2 linked regions of the Homo sapiens genome follow. The protein of the gene in region 1 purifies or fractionates together with the protein of each later gene. This does not show direct contact. Each region holds a gene or a part of one and is shown on either strand. Other genes may lie near its edges.

Region 1 (7,000 bases):
CTGGCCAACATGGTGAAACCCCGTCTCTACTAAAAATACAGAAATTAGTCTGGCGTGGTGGCGCGCGCCTGTAATCCCAACTACTCGGGAGGCTGAGGCAGGAGAATCACCTGAACCCAGGAGCTGGAGGTTGCAGTGAGCCGAGATCGCACCATTCGCACTCCAGCCTGGGCGAGGAGCGAAACTACATCTCAAATAATAATAAAATATTCCACCATAATTTGCTGCATATTTTGTATTACCAGGTTTATAAGTGTTCAAAATATTTCCCCATACATAGGCTCCTAGGATTTAATATTAAGACATCTACATATTACACTTTCTTTACTTTCCAGTCGAGTCCTTGAAAAACTAAACTAGGTTTTCATTTGCTCATCACATTTACAGCATCCTACTCTAACAGTCAGTGTACCACGGTGAAGTGCATAAGAGAGTCAAGGACTCTGCCTTTATTTAGTCTTCTGTCTTAGGTTCTGTGAAAGCATATCTCTGTAATAAACTGTGAAAAAGTAATGACTTTTTTTTCACCATCATATTTCTTGCACCTGAAACATATTTGTTGTTAATGAAATAAACCAGATGATAAACAGTATGATAAATACGGAAGACATAAACAGCAATGATGGGGAAGCCATTTTACATAGCATTGAAGTCAAGAAAGGCATCCCTGAGGAGGTTACACTTAATTAAGTAAACACCTTAACTAAGAGACACTTCAGAATATGGCAGAGGGGATGCGTGTAAAGATTGATTTGATAAACAAAAAGGCTGAAATGTAGAAAGCAAAGGAGAGAGTGATATGAGAGGCAGGAGATCTTTCATGCAGGATCATGAATAATTTTTATATCTTTCTCAGCGGGAAGCCATTGACGAGTTTGGCGCAAGGGGGTGTAATGATATGGTTTATCTTTTTTTAAAAAAAAGTTTGGCTGCTTTTTGTGGAATTAATTAGGGGGCAAGATTAAAAGCAAGACAATAAATTAGGATAATATTGTAGTAGTCAAGGTAGAAGTGGTCGGGGCTTCAATTAGCATGATGTCAGTGGAGACTGGGGAAGAGAAGTTGATAGGTTGAGGATATGTTTGGATGTAGAGCTTACAGGACTTGATGAACTGTACATTGAGTGTCAGAATAAGAGGAATCAAAAGGTTTTGTTTAGCCTGAGGTATTAGTGGTACTGCCATTTACTGAGATGGAGTAGACTGATAGAAGAATGAGAAGGAAATTAACAACACTGGTCATACTAAATTTGAGATGCCTGTTTGACATTTTTGCTCTGAAGTATGTTTTATATCTTTATAACTACTAAGATTCTAATTCCATTTCTTTTTATAGCTTCTGTAGGGAAAAGGAGACCTACTGGTTGTCTTTATTTATACAAAAGCACACTAAAATTGTATGGATTTCATTAAGCCACAGCTTGTGTTAAAATTTTCTACTCTCCTCTCCCCTCTTTGACTTGTTTCTTTCACTTCTCTTCACTAACTGTTGCTCATAACCCCTTTTCCACTTATGATAGACAGTTTTGGCAGGTTGCTCCCCTGTATTTATTCAGTCAACAGATACTTATTGAACACCTACTATGTTGTAGGCAATGACACTGCACTGAGAGGCATAACAGTGAGGGAGAAGAAACCATGTTTTTTTCATAGAGTGTTCAGTCTAGTGAGGAAAGTAAAAAATAATAAAATAATACTTTTAAATGTAAAATTACAACTGACAAGTACAGCAATCAGTGGTGGATTGTTTATACAAGTTGAACATCCCAAATTTAGAAATCCAAAATCCTCCAGAATTTGAAGCAACATGACCCCCCTAAGAAATGCTCATTGAATCAATTCAGATTTTTGGATTTGGGATGCTCAGTTGGGATAATATAATAAAATTTGCAAATATTCCAAAATCCAAAAAAAAAATCTGAAATCTGAAACATTTCTTCTAGTTTCAAGCATTTCGGATAAGGGACACTTAACCTGAAATCATGAGAATTGGATCTAATCAGGGTGGTTTGAAGTGGGTATTAGAGAACAGAAGGTAGAGAGGCAGTGCTTTCTAGGTAGAGAGAGTAAAATAGGGGAGCATGGCATGTTTGGGGAACTTAAGGGAGGACAATAATGGTGTCAGATAGGAGAGCGGTGCAAGATGATACTGGAGGTGACATCACATTTATTTCAAACAAGGTCAATAGCCGGGCATGGTGGCTCACGCCTGTAATCCCAGCATTTTGGGAGGCCAAGTTGAGAGGATTGCTTGAGCCCAGGAGTTGGAGACCAGCCTGAGCAACATAGTGAGCCCGTGTCTGTACAAAAACATAAAAAAATGATATGGGAGGATTCTTGAGCCCAGGAGGGCGAGGCTGCAGTGAGCCATGATCGTACCACTGCATTCCCACCTGGGAGTACAGAGCGAGACCCTGCCACCCAAAAAAAAAAAGGTCATCAGCTGCTACATGGAGAGAGCTTCAGAGAGGGGCAGCAGATTATCCAGTTAGGAGATGATTGGAATAGAGGACAAAGGTGATTGATGGTGGCTAGCTTGTTCCTATAAACTTTCTTTTGATATTCTACCTTTTCTTTTTTTCACTCTGGGGGCTCTAACAAGCCTACCTACTCTCTTATACATTTCTTCATTTTTGTACTGCACTTGTTCATATCTAGTTTTCTTTTCCTTTTTTTTTTAACCAAGTGAATTCCTTCTCCTATATTTTCTCCCGTTTTTCCTGAAGTAACTTTTTTCTGCCTTCCTTTCTAATATACATATACTACTACTTTAGTTTGTTTTCCTTTTCATTTCAGCCTGTCTTCCTTTATGGACCTTGTCTACTAGGTTGAAAAGAGTGATGCTAAACTGTTGCATGCAATGTTGTTCTCTACAGATACCAGCAAAAATGCTTCTGTCTCCAAATGAAAAGTGTTTTCCATTTCGCCTTAGCCAGTCTTTTATGTTATATATAAACTCATTGCAGAACCCAATCAGTTTGCCAGTTTTACTGGAGACCGTAAATACCTAACACTGTCTGTTGAACTAGAGCACAGCTTCTCCCAAACGATTGGCATTCCATGGAATATGAACAGGGTTTCTAGTTTCTGCCTACTTAGGGGAATACACCTCTTTTTCTTTTGATTGCATTACTTTTGGAAACTACATCATGGTGTCATTCCTTATTTACTCCTTACTTAAGTATGTTTATTTCCTGATTTCATCCCAGTTAAAGTGATAAATTCTGTTTATCATGTGAGTTCATGTACTTGAAACAGTAAAGTAGAACCTCACTTGGAATGAAAGTGATTTTCAGGCAAAGTTTAGTGGGTCATACCTGTTATCCTGAGATAACACTTCGGGAGGCCAAGGCAGGAGGATTGCTTGAGCCCAGGAGTTCAAGACCAGCCTGGGCAACATAACGAGGCCCCATCTCTGCAAAAAATACAAAAATTAACCGGATGTCACAGCATGCACCCAAAGTCCCAGGAATTCAGGAGGCTGAGGTGGGAGGATTGCTTGTTGCTCGAGCCCAGGAGGTTGAGGCTGCAATTCATGACACTGCACTTCAGCCTGGGTGACAGAGCTGAGAAGAAAGAAAGAAAAAAGAGAGGGAGGGAGAAAGAAAGAAGAGGAAAAAGAGGAAAGGAGGAAGGAAAGAAAGAAGGAAAGAGAGGAAGGAAAGAAAGGAAGAAAGAAAGGAAGGAGAAAAGAAAGTGATTTTCGCTAGAAATGCATTGAGAATATGAACTCAAAAGTCAGAATGCTGAGGTTCAACATCTGGCTTTACTACTTGTTAGCTATGTGATCTTGGATAGATTACTTAACTTCTCTGTTTTCTCAGCTATATAACAAGGGTAATAATTGTCGTTAAAAATAATAATTGTAGTTACCTTATAAGATTGCCATGAGGATTGAGGAAATATATATTACTTAAAGCAATTCCAGGCATATAATAAGCACTCCGTGTTACTTGATATTATTTATTTTATTAGCAGATAGAGAAAAGAAAAAGAGCTTCCTTTACTTGCTTGTCTTCTCTTCTATTTGAATTTTAGTTTGCATTGTTTTTCTTTCACTGACTACCTTTTTCTAGATATTAGCTGATTTTGACCAGTGTTGTAATGAGAGAGGAAAGAGAATGAAATTACATACTTTGTATGTCTAGACTTTCATAAATTGATTATTCCTGTTGCTATTAGAAAAGTATGTTGAATATTTGAGGAACTTGAGGTATAGAAGGGTTGTTTGGCACAGCTTAAGTTATTGGGGAAGTCAGACTGTAGCCTGGGACCCGACTTAATAGCTTCAGCTTTCTTCAGCATTTCCTTCCTCTCCCTTTCTCCCCGCTTCCTCATCACTTTGCTTCCCTATTCTTACTCTTACCTCTTTTTCCTGTACCTCCCCCCAAAGGAAGGGGCGACTGAACAAGAGAAGGAAAAATAATAAGTTATTATGGAGAAGTATTATTTATTGATGAAGCAGCACTTTTAAGAGGGCAAAAATGGAAAGCCACAAATCTCTTGAGGCCCAACTTCAGAAATTTACAGTGTTAACGTCTTCCACATTGTATTGGCCAAAAGAATACAGAGCCAGCCCTGATTGAAGGGGAGAGGGAGTAGATTCCACCCTTCAGTGGGAAGAATGACAAATAATTTGCAGCTATCTTTAATCTATACAGCCATCTTTTCTCTCCCATACCTACCTGGTATTTTTTCCCCATTCTTTCAACAGTCAAAGTATTTTTCAACAGTCATGTGGTATTTTAAATGACAATTCTTATGAAACCCAAAATCCAACTTTTGGACAGTTTGGGAAGCTAAAGAAAGACAAAACAAAATGGGCAACTTAATTAGTAATTTATTTCAAAGATATAAATAGCATAGAAACAGTCATTAGTTTAATGTTTTGTTTTTGTTTTTGTTTTTTGAGATGGAGTAGATGGAGTCTCGGCTCCGTTGCCCAGGCTGGAGTGTAGTGGCGCCATCTCAGCTCACTGGCTGACTGCAACCTCTGCCTTCCAGGTTCAAGCAATTCTGCTTCCTCAGCCTCCCTAGTAGCTGGGATTACAGGCGCATACCACCATGCCTGACTAATTTTTGTATTTTTAGTAGAGATGGGGTTTCTCCATGTTGTCCAGGCTGGTCTCAAACTCCTGACCTCAAGTGATCCACCTACTTCAGCCTCCCAGAGTGCTGGGATTAGAAGTGTGAGTCACCGCACCTGGCCTTAGTTTAACTTCTAGTTGATTGGGAATGGATTCAGGAATTTCTGAAACTAGGCAAGCATAAGTATGGACAAAAGAGGAAGAATGTTAGAAACTTTTCCTTCCTTTTGTTTTTTCTTTCATTTAGTGATGCCTGGGTCTTGCTCTCATTTTCATTACTTAAGCTCTTAGAAATGGTCATACTATTCACGATACTAAAAGTAAAACAGTATCTTGATATAAAATGCCAGTTAATCCACTAAGTCACAGACTGTTAATGCTCACAGTTACAGCACACTTAAGTTGTATACCTAAGTCATATTACTTAGAATGATGCAACAATGGATAATCCATTATTGTGAACTGCAAATGATGGTTGCCATCATCAGGTAATAAAACAATGGCTACAGTTACAGAAAGTGATAGATAATCTGTGCCATATCCATTTGACACTAAAAACAGGGTTGTTTTTGGACCCTAATTTTTTTTGTCTACCTTAGGGTTTTGTACTTCCCAGAATCTTCTGCATCCATTGGCAAAAATTATTAACTATTATCTTCAGAGTATATGGGGCTTTCAGTGCTAAAATTGGGATAGTCCCAGGCACACTGGGATGTTTGGACACTCTGCCTTGTCCTAGTTTAACAACAGCTACCTTGAAGCCATCTGAAATCAGCCTGGAGTAGTATGAAAACAGCTATGTTCTGATCTTGCCTTTGGAGGTTGTTTTTGTTTGTTTTGTTTGGGGGTGGGGTGAGGGAGGAGTTGCTATATCAAATACATTTTATAGTTTTTGAAGATGCGTTTTTTCCCCCTCCCAAATTCACTGCATTACAGTTTTTGAAACAGAACGGGAGAAAAAAAATAACAAACAGTGCTGGCATCCAATAGATGGTAAATTCACTTTTCATTTTTAATAAAGAGTGGACGACGAGGAACTAGAAATTCTCCTAGGCTTGGAGAATTTAAACTGTTTAGTAACCTTGTTGTTTCATATATTCAAAAATCTACAACTTTCTACCTTCATAACCTCCTACTTATGAATCAAGAACTAAATTCTGGAGACAAGATGAAGGTACTACTTAACTACCATGACCCCTGCTGACTCTGCTTCTGTGGAAACCAATAACTTCTCTTTCTTCATAACCCCAGTGGTCACTATTTGAATGAAGTGGGATTCCAAACATTTTGGCATTCAGTCTTCTGTTTTCAGCCCAGGTTGGTTTTCATTTTTTAACCACAGGAGATATAAAAGAATGATTTAGTAAATCATAATAGCAGTTAAGTCTGAAGCTGTTCATCAGCTTCTCCTTCACAAGTTTGGGTATCAGCTCCTCAGTCTCTTTTGCTTTCACCATTTACAGGCTTCACTTATTTCTTGAGTCTCTGTTAATTTAAGCTTTTAATGAAACTGTGCATCTTCCTGAATTACGTGTTTGCACTTTCAAAGTTAAAGTGTTTCTCAAATTTCATTGGTCTGTCTCACAGAATACTGAATTCCCTGACACTTTGATGATCCTCTCACTTTAAAGCATAAGGAACATTTGGAACTACTTATCTCATGCAGTCATTTCTCGGTTTAATTTCTGGCTTTAGAAGTTTGTGTGCTTCAGCTTGAGATAAGTGTATTTTTAAGAGATTGTGTATTCTGTGTAAAGGTAGCGCCAACTGCACTGCTTTGGAATAGGTATCATTGCTAGACTTTTTCATTCCATAGAAAGTTAAGGAGTTTCCAGCAACACCTGTAGCACTAAACTGCTGCCTGACTAACGAACTGAACTGACTATGCTATCATCTTGCTGAAAGGTACATAGA
Region 2 (8,598 bases), on another chromosome or scaffold:
GTATGTGTTTTTTTCCTTTAGTCTATTAATGTAATATATTACAGTATTCATCAGCTCAGGCTGCCATAATAAAATACGATAGACTAGGTAGCTTAAATCAGCGGTCCTCAACCTTTTTGGCACCAGGGACTGGTTTCGTGGAAGACAATTTTTCCACAGATGGGGTGGAGGGGTGGTTTTGGGATTTAACTGTTCCACCTCAGATCATCAGGCATTAGATTCTCAAAAGGAGCACGCAACCTAGATCCCTTGCATGCACAGTTCACAATAGAGTTTACGCTCCTATGAGGATCTAATGCCTCCACTGATCTGACAGGAGGTGAAGCTCAGGTGGAAACGCTTGCTTGCCTGCCGCTCACCTCCTGCTCTGTGGCCCAGTTCCTAGCAGGCCACAGACCAATACCTAACAGCCCTTCTCACTGTGTCCTCCTGTAGCAGAGGGAGACGGCGATTTCTCTTCCTATTTTATAAGGCCGCCAATCCTATTGAAGATGTCGCTACTGTTAGGACTTCATTTAACCTAAATTACCTCCTAAAAGCCCTGTCTCCAAATATTAGGGGTTAGAACCTTAACATGTGAATTTTGGGGGGATGTAGTTCAACCTATAGCAGTTAGATTGATTGGTTTTCAGATGTTAAACTTATTTTGCATCTGTGGGATAAATCCCACTTGGTCATGGTGTATAATCCTTTTTATATGTTGCTGGATTTGGTTTGCTATTAATAATATTTTGTTGACAATGTTTGCAGCCTTGTATTTCAAGGCTTTGGAGAACTGTAAAAGCAGTGAAGTAATATGGGGCCCATATCTAGTGAAGTATTTAACAGAAACAATGGAAGCCAAAAGAAAGAAAACAACTGCCACCTAGAATTCTCTACTCAATACGTATATCTTTTAATAAGGAAGGTGAAATAAAACTATTTTCAGGAAATAAAAATTAAGGGAATTTGTCACCAGCAGACTCTCACTAAAGGAAAAACTAAAAAGGAGTTCTTCAGGCAGAAGGAAAATGATTCCCGATGGAAGCTCAGAGATACAGGAAGTAATGAAGAACAGTGGAAAGGTAAATATGTAGGCAATCAATCTAAGTGAATACTGTCTTGTGGGATGAACAACAATGGCATATAAATTGGGAGGGGAGTAAATGATGTTAATTTCTAAGGACTTTGCATTGTTTATAAAGAGAATAAAAGTAACAAGTAATTTTAGGCGTTGACAGTTCAGGGTTGCTCATTGTAATCTCTTACCAAAATAGACTATGAAAAGTCTGTAACTAACTACAGAGTTAACAGAAAAGGAAAAATTGAAATGATGAAACGTAGTCCACAAGAAGACAAGAAAGGAGAGGAAAAGGGATAGTTGTATAGGCAAGAGTAACAGATTGAAAAAGTTAAATACAACTCTATCAGTAATACATTAAGTGAAAATAGGTTTGATGCTTGAATTACAACTGTATTCAATATTTTGTCAGAGGTCCTAGTCAAAGAAATAAGGAAAGAAAAATAAAAATGATAAAGATTGGATAAGAAGAAATAAAACTATTATTTATACACAACATGATGGTGGACATAAAAACTAAAAAGATATCTAGATAAACCATTAGAATCAATAAGTGATTTTAAAAGGTTGTTACACTAATGTAAAAAGAAAGTGTATTTTTATATACAGATACCATGCAGAAAATGAGATAAAAAATCATTTACAATAGCATCAAAGAACATCAAAATCTAGGGAATAAACATAAGAAAATGTAAGATCTTTAAACTAGAAACTATAAACCTTGAAAGAAATTTTCATGTTCATGGATTGAAGAATCAATATTGTAAACATGTCAGTTCTGCCTAGATTGTTATATTTATCCAATGTAATTTCAATCAAAATCTCAGAGAAGTATTTTTTTTTAATGAAAAGCCAATTCCAAAAATAAATGTGGGAAAGTAAAAGGCTCAGAAGAACTAGGATAATCTTAAGAACAAAGTGAATAGATGTCCTCTATCAGATACTAAAACTTATGAAACTTTAGTCTTTAGTCTTTAAAATAGTGCAGTTTTGCTGCAGAGTTAGAAAGACCATGGAAAAAAACCAGGAATTCCAGAAACAGACACATTTATGGATGTCTGATTTGTGACAAAGGTGCTGCACAGCAGTGAGGACAGGACTTTCTTCAATAAATGATACTGGGTCAATTGAATATTCATATGGAGAGGAAAATGAAACTTTATTGCCGAATCACCCTGCATATAAAAATCAGTTAGAAGTAGACTATGATTTGGCTACATGTTGTAGCCAAAATAGTAAAGCTTCTAGAAACAGGAGAAAATCTCTATGACTTTGATGGTAAAGAGAGATTTCTGGCCACAAAAAGCACTGACAAAGAAAAAAAGATAAAACCGGACTGCAATAAAGTTAAACAATGGAAGATGATTAAGAAAGTGAAAAGAAGCTGCAGAGAGGAAGATGGTACTTGAAACACATATAATTGAGCAAAGAACTGGTGTCCTGAATAGGGAATTTCTACAAGTCCATAAGGAAGAGACAGAACATCCATTTGAAAAACAGAGAGACTTGAACAGACCCAATGTAAAAGAGGATATCCAGATGGCTAGTAAATATGAAAAGCTATTGCAAAAATTACAGATTAAGGCCACAGTGATATAACAATAAACATCCTTACAATAGCTAAAATTAAAGAGACTGACAATAGCAAGTGTTGATAAGGAGATAGGAATACTGCTGGTAGGGAATATAAATTTGTACAGCCACTTTGGAAGACTGGTCGGTAGGGAGTACTAAAGCTGAACATATGCAAATTTTATGACCCCGAAGTTTCACTCCTAATAATGCACTCAACAAAAATGCATGCACATTGGCACCAAAAGACACATACAAGAAGGTTCTTCATAGTATTATTAGTAATAGCCAAAAGCTAGAAACAACACAAATGTCCATCAAGAGTAGAATGAATAAATAAGATATGGCATATTCATACAATGAATATGCAGAAAAGAAAATGAACAGATTCAGCCAATATGTATGAATATCACATATATAATATTGAGTAAAATAAGCTGAATGCAATAGCATACATATTATATGACTCCATTTATATACATTTCAGAAAATTTCAAAACTATAGTATTAAAAGTTAGGTAATAGTTACTTTTGGGGAAAAGGGAAGGGATTGGGATGGGGCATTACAGGGATTTCTGGATGCTTGTCAACTTTTTATGGATAGATGGTAAGGATGTGTCTACTTTGTGATAGTTGATTGAGCTGTATGCATATGATTTGTGTACTTTATGTTATACATCAATTCAAAAAATCTAAAGGAACGGATACCTTATAGGATGTAAATGAAGTTTTCTATTCACATTGCTTTTTTCTTTTTGCCTTGGCAGAGAGAGGACAAGGTTGGATTTTAGTATTTATTTTTGTAATTTCAGCTTTTATTTTAGATTCGGGGGGACACATGTCCAGGCTTGTTACGTGGGTATGTTGTGTGATGCTGAGGTTTGGGGTACAAATGATCCCATCACCCAGCTAGTGAGCATAGTACCTGATAGGTAGTTTTTCGAGCCCTTTCCCCCTGCCCTGTCTCTCCTGACCCAGTGTCTCCCAGTGCCTTTTATTCCCATCTTTATGTCCACATGTACCTAATGTTTAGCTCCCACTTAAAAGTGAGAATATGTGGTATTTGGTTTTCTGTTCCTGTGTAAATTTGCTTAGGATGATGGCCTCCAGCTGTATCCATGTTGCTGCAAATGACATGATCTCATTTTTTATGGCTGTGTAGTATTCCATGATGTATATGTACCACATATTCTTTATTCAGTAACGTTGAATTTTAACTGAATATTTATTTGTTTCCTTGTGCATTTGTCCCCTTTAATCACCAGGCAGTCTAACTCTGGTGATGGGTCCTGGACAGTGGAGAGTTTCGTAGCAGGATTTTGAAAGCATCATAATTTAGATTGTTCCTGGGGCTAGGAGCACTAGCATGGACCTCTGAAGTCAACATGGAAGAAAATAATTCCAAGAGTTGTAACACAGTGGTCAGGAGCTAGCAACCTGATTTAAGTTCTTTAACACCTTTACCGTGATATTTTAAAATGTCTTTTCTAAGTATTGTTAAATTAAAATGCACTATTAAATTATAAATAACATGTTAGAAATATGCCATTTGCTATTTGCTAGCATAATACAATGAAAGAGGATAAGCTTCAGAGTTAGATTCAAATCCTGGCCTTGCTGTTTGCTCATTATAAAACTTTGGGCAGTTTACTCTAATTCTTTTTTTTTCTTTTCTTTTCTTTTTTTTTTTTTTTTTTGAGACAGAGCCTCACTCTGTCACCCAGGTTGGAGTGCAGTGATGCAGTCTCGGCTTACTGCAACCTCCGCCTCCAGGGTTCAAGCAATTCTCCTGCCTCAGCCTCCCAAGTAGCTAGGACTACAGGCGCGCAGCACCACCATGCCTGGGTAATTTTTATTTTTTTATTTTTTAGTAGAGACAGGGTTTCGTCTTGTTGGCCAGGCTGGTCTTAAACTCCTGACCTCAGGTGATCTGCCCACTGTAGACTCCCAAAGTGCTGGGATTACAGGCCTGAGCCACTGCGCCCAGCCCAGTTTACTCTAATTTTTTGTGCCTTAGTCTTTTCGTGCTAAATGGGGACGATATTCTTACTCAGTGAAAAGTCAATGAAGATTACTGTGTAAATGGAATAGCACTGTGTTTGGTACATCATAGGTGCCCCATAGGTAGACTTTTTCCCATTCTGCTTGCTACTCCACTAAATAATATTAGTAAAGAAAGAATCTTTCTAACTGTAGAGAGAGTTACAAGACTGAAAAATTTAGTGTATTTATTTTAATTTTGTGTTTAAGTTGGGATTTTTAATTTCTGAAAGAAAATAAAGGTACCTTTTTTGTCAATCTTTGACCTCTTTTAATACAATAATCCAACCCTGTTCTCTCTCTTAACAGATTTTCATTTTAAAAAACATTTACTCATTGAAAAATATAAGAATTTATAAGAAAAATTGAAAAATTACCCATAACTGCACCACACTGATATCTGTACTAGTAAGGTTTGGTGTACACTAGTCCCCCCTTATCTGTGGTTGGTTTCAGTTACAGCCAGATGTGGCTCGAAAATATTAAATGGAAAATTCCAGAAATAAATGGGCAAATAAATTGCATGTTATTCTGAGTAGCTTGATGAAATCCTTCGCTGCCACTCATTGTCCCACTCAGGACATGAATCATCCATTTGTCCAGCGTATTCCTGCTGTCTGCCCATTAGTCACTCAGTAGCTGTCTTGGTTATTAGATCAACTGTTGGATATCACAGTGCTTGTGTTCAAGTAACCCTTATTTTACTTTTATTACAGTATATTGTTATAATTGTTTTATTTCATTATCAGTTATTGTCATTAATCCCTTACTGTGTGTAGTTTATAAATTAATCTTTATCATAGGTATGTAAGGAAAAACATATATAGGTTTGGTACTATCCACCGTTTCAGGCATCCACTGGGGGTCTTGGAACAAATTCCCTGCGGATAATAGGGGACTACTGTAATTTCTTCCATTTACTTGTCTGTATGTTTTTAAACTGTAGTTTGACATGAAACCATACGTGTGGTTTTTGCATTCCTCATTTTTTTCTAAATCCAGCGCCATAGACTGCTCGGCCACACCACACTCATTTTTTCTTAATATGTAACGTTTCCCCATGTTATTAAAAATTTTCTAAATCCAGCACCTTAGACCACTCGGCCACACTACCACACTCATTTTTTCTTAATATGTAACGTTTCCCATGTTACTTAAAATTCTTTGTATTATTTTAGATAGCTGCATAGTATTACATCTTAGAGCCTATTATAATTGAAGTCTTTTACTGTTAGAAACTTAGGAGGTTTCCAGTTTTTTGTTATGCTATGATAATGGCATCTTTTTTGCATGAATCATTTACCTTTAAGACTATTTCCTTAGGCTGTACTTAGGGAAATCTCATTATTTTACCTAAGGGAAAGTAGTTTTATGGTTTTTAGATGCAAATTTCAGAATTGCTTTATAGAAAAGCTTTCAATTCATAATTTTACCAAGAGTATAGAAATGAATCCATTTTGTCGAACTCTCACTACTGAATACTGTCCATTTAAAAATATTCCATTTCTTTTTTCTTTATAGCATTTGTTCAGTGCTCAGCACAGGAGTTTGACCAGACAGAGTAGACGTCAAATATGTACCAGTAGTTTGATGGAACGTTTCTTACAGGATGTACTGCAGCACCACCCATATCATTGTCAAGAGAGCAGGTAAAGTAGTTGATTGGAATAATATTTATACGTAGTTATATGTTACAGTAGGTGTTTGTGTTCATGTCCCAATCAATACTTTAAGTGAATCTTTGAGTCAAGGAATATAAAGTAAAATTTTAGTAACTTTCATTTGCAATTTAAAATTTTTCTTAGCTGAAGTAAGAAATTTCACTACAGAAGATATGGACTACACTATGTTTTTTTCTAAATAAAAGTCTTAGGCTAATAATTATATATCATTAAGATGTTTTATAAGTATGTTATAGGATTAAGCAGGGGGAAAAGGAGGAAGAGATAGTTTTTTTTGTTTGTTTGTTTTTGAGATGGAGTTTCGCTCTTGTTGCCCAGGGTAGAGAGCAATGGCACGATCTCAGCTCACCGCAACCTCCACCACCCAGGTTCAAGCGATTCTCCTGCCTCAGCCTCCCGAGTAGCTGGGATTACAGGCATGTGTCACCACGCCTGGCTAATTTTTTGTATTTTTATTAGAGTTGAGGTTTCGCCATGTTGGTCAGGCTGGTCTCGAATTCCCGACCTCAGGTGATCCACCCGCCTTGGCCTCCCAAAGTGCTGAGATTACAGGCGTGAGCTACCACACCTGGCAAAATGGTTTTTAAAAGGTTAGCAACAGAAAAACTGGTGACAATAGCAGAGTAAGGACAATCAAGTCAAAACTGAGTCAAATCCACATTAATAGAACTCTTTGCTAATTCTGAGGAAAAGAGGTAGCCAAAAGAATTGGGTTTTTAAATCTGTCTGTATTTTGATAGCTTTTCTTGTATCCATTTGTTTTAGTTGTTTTTAATAAAAATAATTATTTTGATAACATTTAAGAGTTAATGCCCTATGTTAAAGAAAAACATTGGTAGAAAATCAGATTAAATATTATAATATGTTTGTAGCTCCCGCTGTACAAGATAAGGTAAAAATCGATCATTAGCACATCTGTGCAGTTAACTGAGATGTGCACCAGTTAGTAGAAAAAGGGATAAACTTCTTTGCCTTGCAAATCACTAACATAGACCTTAGAAATGGCAAAAATATTTTAATGGGGAAAAGTTAGAGGAAAACAAGATGGTTTCTTAGCTGGTGGGAAGATAGAATTAGCCTATCCTGGGGTCAGTATAAATTTCCAGGTTTTTTTTGTTTTTGTTTTTGTTTTTTGAGACGGAGTCTTGCTGTGTCACCCAGGCTGGACTGCAGTGACATGATCTCAACTCACTGCAACCCCCACCTCCCTGGTTCAAGCAATTCTCCCTGCCTTAGCCTCCCAAGTAGCTGGGATTACAGGCACCCGTCACCATGCCTGGCTAATTGTTTTGTATATTTAGTAGAGACTGGGTTTTGCCATGTTGGCCAGGCTGGTCTTGAACTCCTGACCCCAAGTGATCTGCCCACCTTGGCTTCCCAAAGTACTGGGATTACAGGAATGAGTCACCGTGCCCAGCTCCAATGTATAACTCTCATAAGCAGTGCTTCAGCAAACATGTTTTTACATGAATTTTTTTTTTCTTTTTTTTTTGAGACAGAGTCTCGGTCTGTTGGCCAGGCTGTAGTGCTATGGCACAATCTTGGCTCACTGCAACCTCCATCTCCGAGGCTCAAGCAATTCTCCTGCCTCAGCCTCTCGAGTGGCTGGGATTACAGGCATATGCCACCATGCCTGGCTAATTTTTGTATTTTTAGTAGAGACAGGGTTTCACCATGTTGGCCAGGCTGGTCTCGAACTCCCGACCTCAGGTAATCTGCCTGCCTCGCCCTCCCAAAGTGCTGGGATTACAGGCGTGAGCCAACACGCCCGGCCACATGCAACTATTTCTATGGTATAGCTTGCTAGAATTTGAAGTTCTGGGTCAGAGTTTACGGACCTTAAAAATTTTTTATTTTTATTTTTTATCTTTCCTTTCTGGAATAATTTCAGGCTAACAAAAATGTTGTAAAACTGGTACAAGAAATTCTTGGATCACCTTCCCCTGGCTTTCTCAAATATTAAATCCAAAATAACCACAGAGGGCCAGGTGCGGTGGCTCACGCCTGTAATCCCAGCACTTTGGGAGGCCAAGGTGGGCTGATGGCTTGAGGTCAGGAGTTCAAGACCAGCCTGGCCAACATGGTGAAACCCCTGTCTCTACTAAAAATACAAAAATTAGCTAGGCATGTTGGCACACACCCGTAGTCCCAGCTACTCGGGAGGCTGAGGCAGAAGAATTCCTTGAACTGCACTCCAGCCTGGGTGACAGAGCTAGACTCCTTCTTAAAAAAAGATTTTAAAAA

What was found. Proteins that work in one complex are often made in the same cells at the same time.
Region 2: the proteins of SENP6 (region 1) and ZDBF2 purify together in Homo sapiens (affinity purification with mass spectrometry; 2 studies listed by BioGRID and IntAct, with this or other methods). This does not show direct contact.

What each region holds. Positions count from the first base shown.
Region 1 is NC_000006.12:75,604,880-75,611,879, forward strand, and holds part of SENP6 (sentrin-specific protease 6), read left to right. Parts: intron 1-7,000.
Region 2 is NC_000002.12:206,291,053-206,299,650, forward strand, and holds part of ZDBF2 (DBF4-type zinc finger-containing protein 2), read left to right. Parts: intron 1-958; exon of another isoform or gene 959-1,010; coding exon of another isoform or gene 1,011-1,064; intron 1,065-6,193; coding exon 6,194-6,321; intron 6,322-8,598.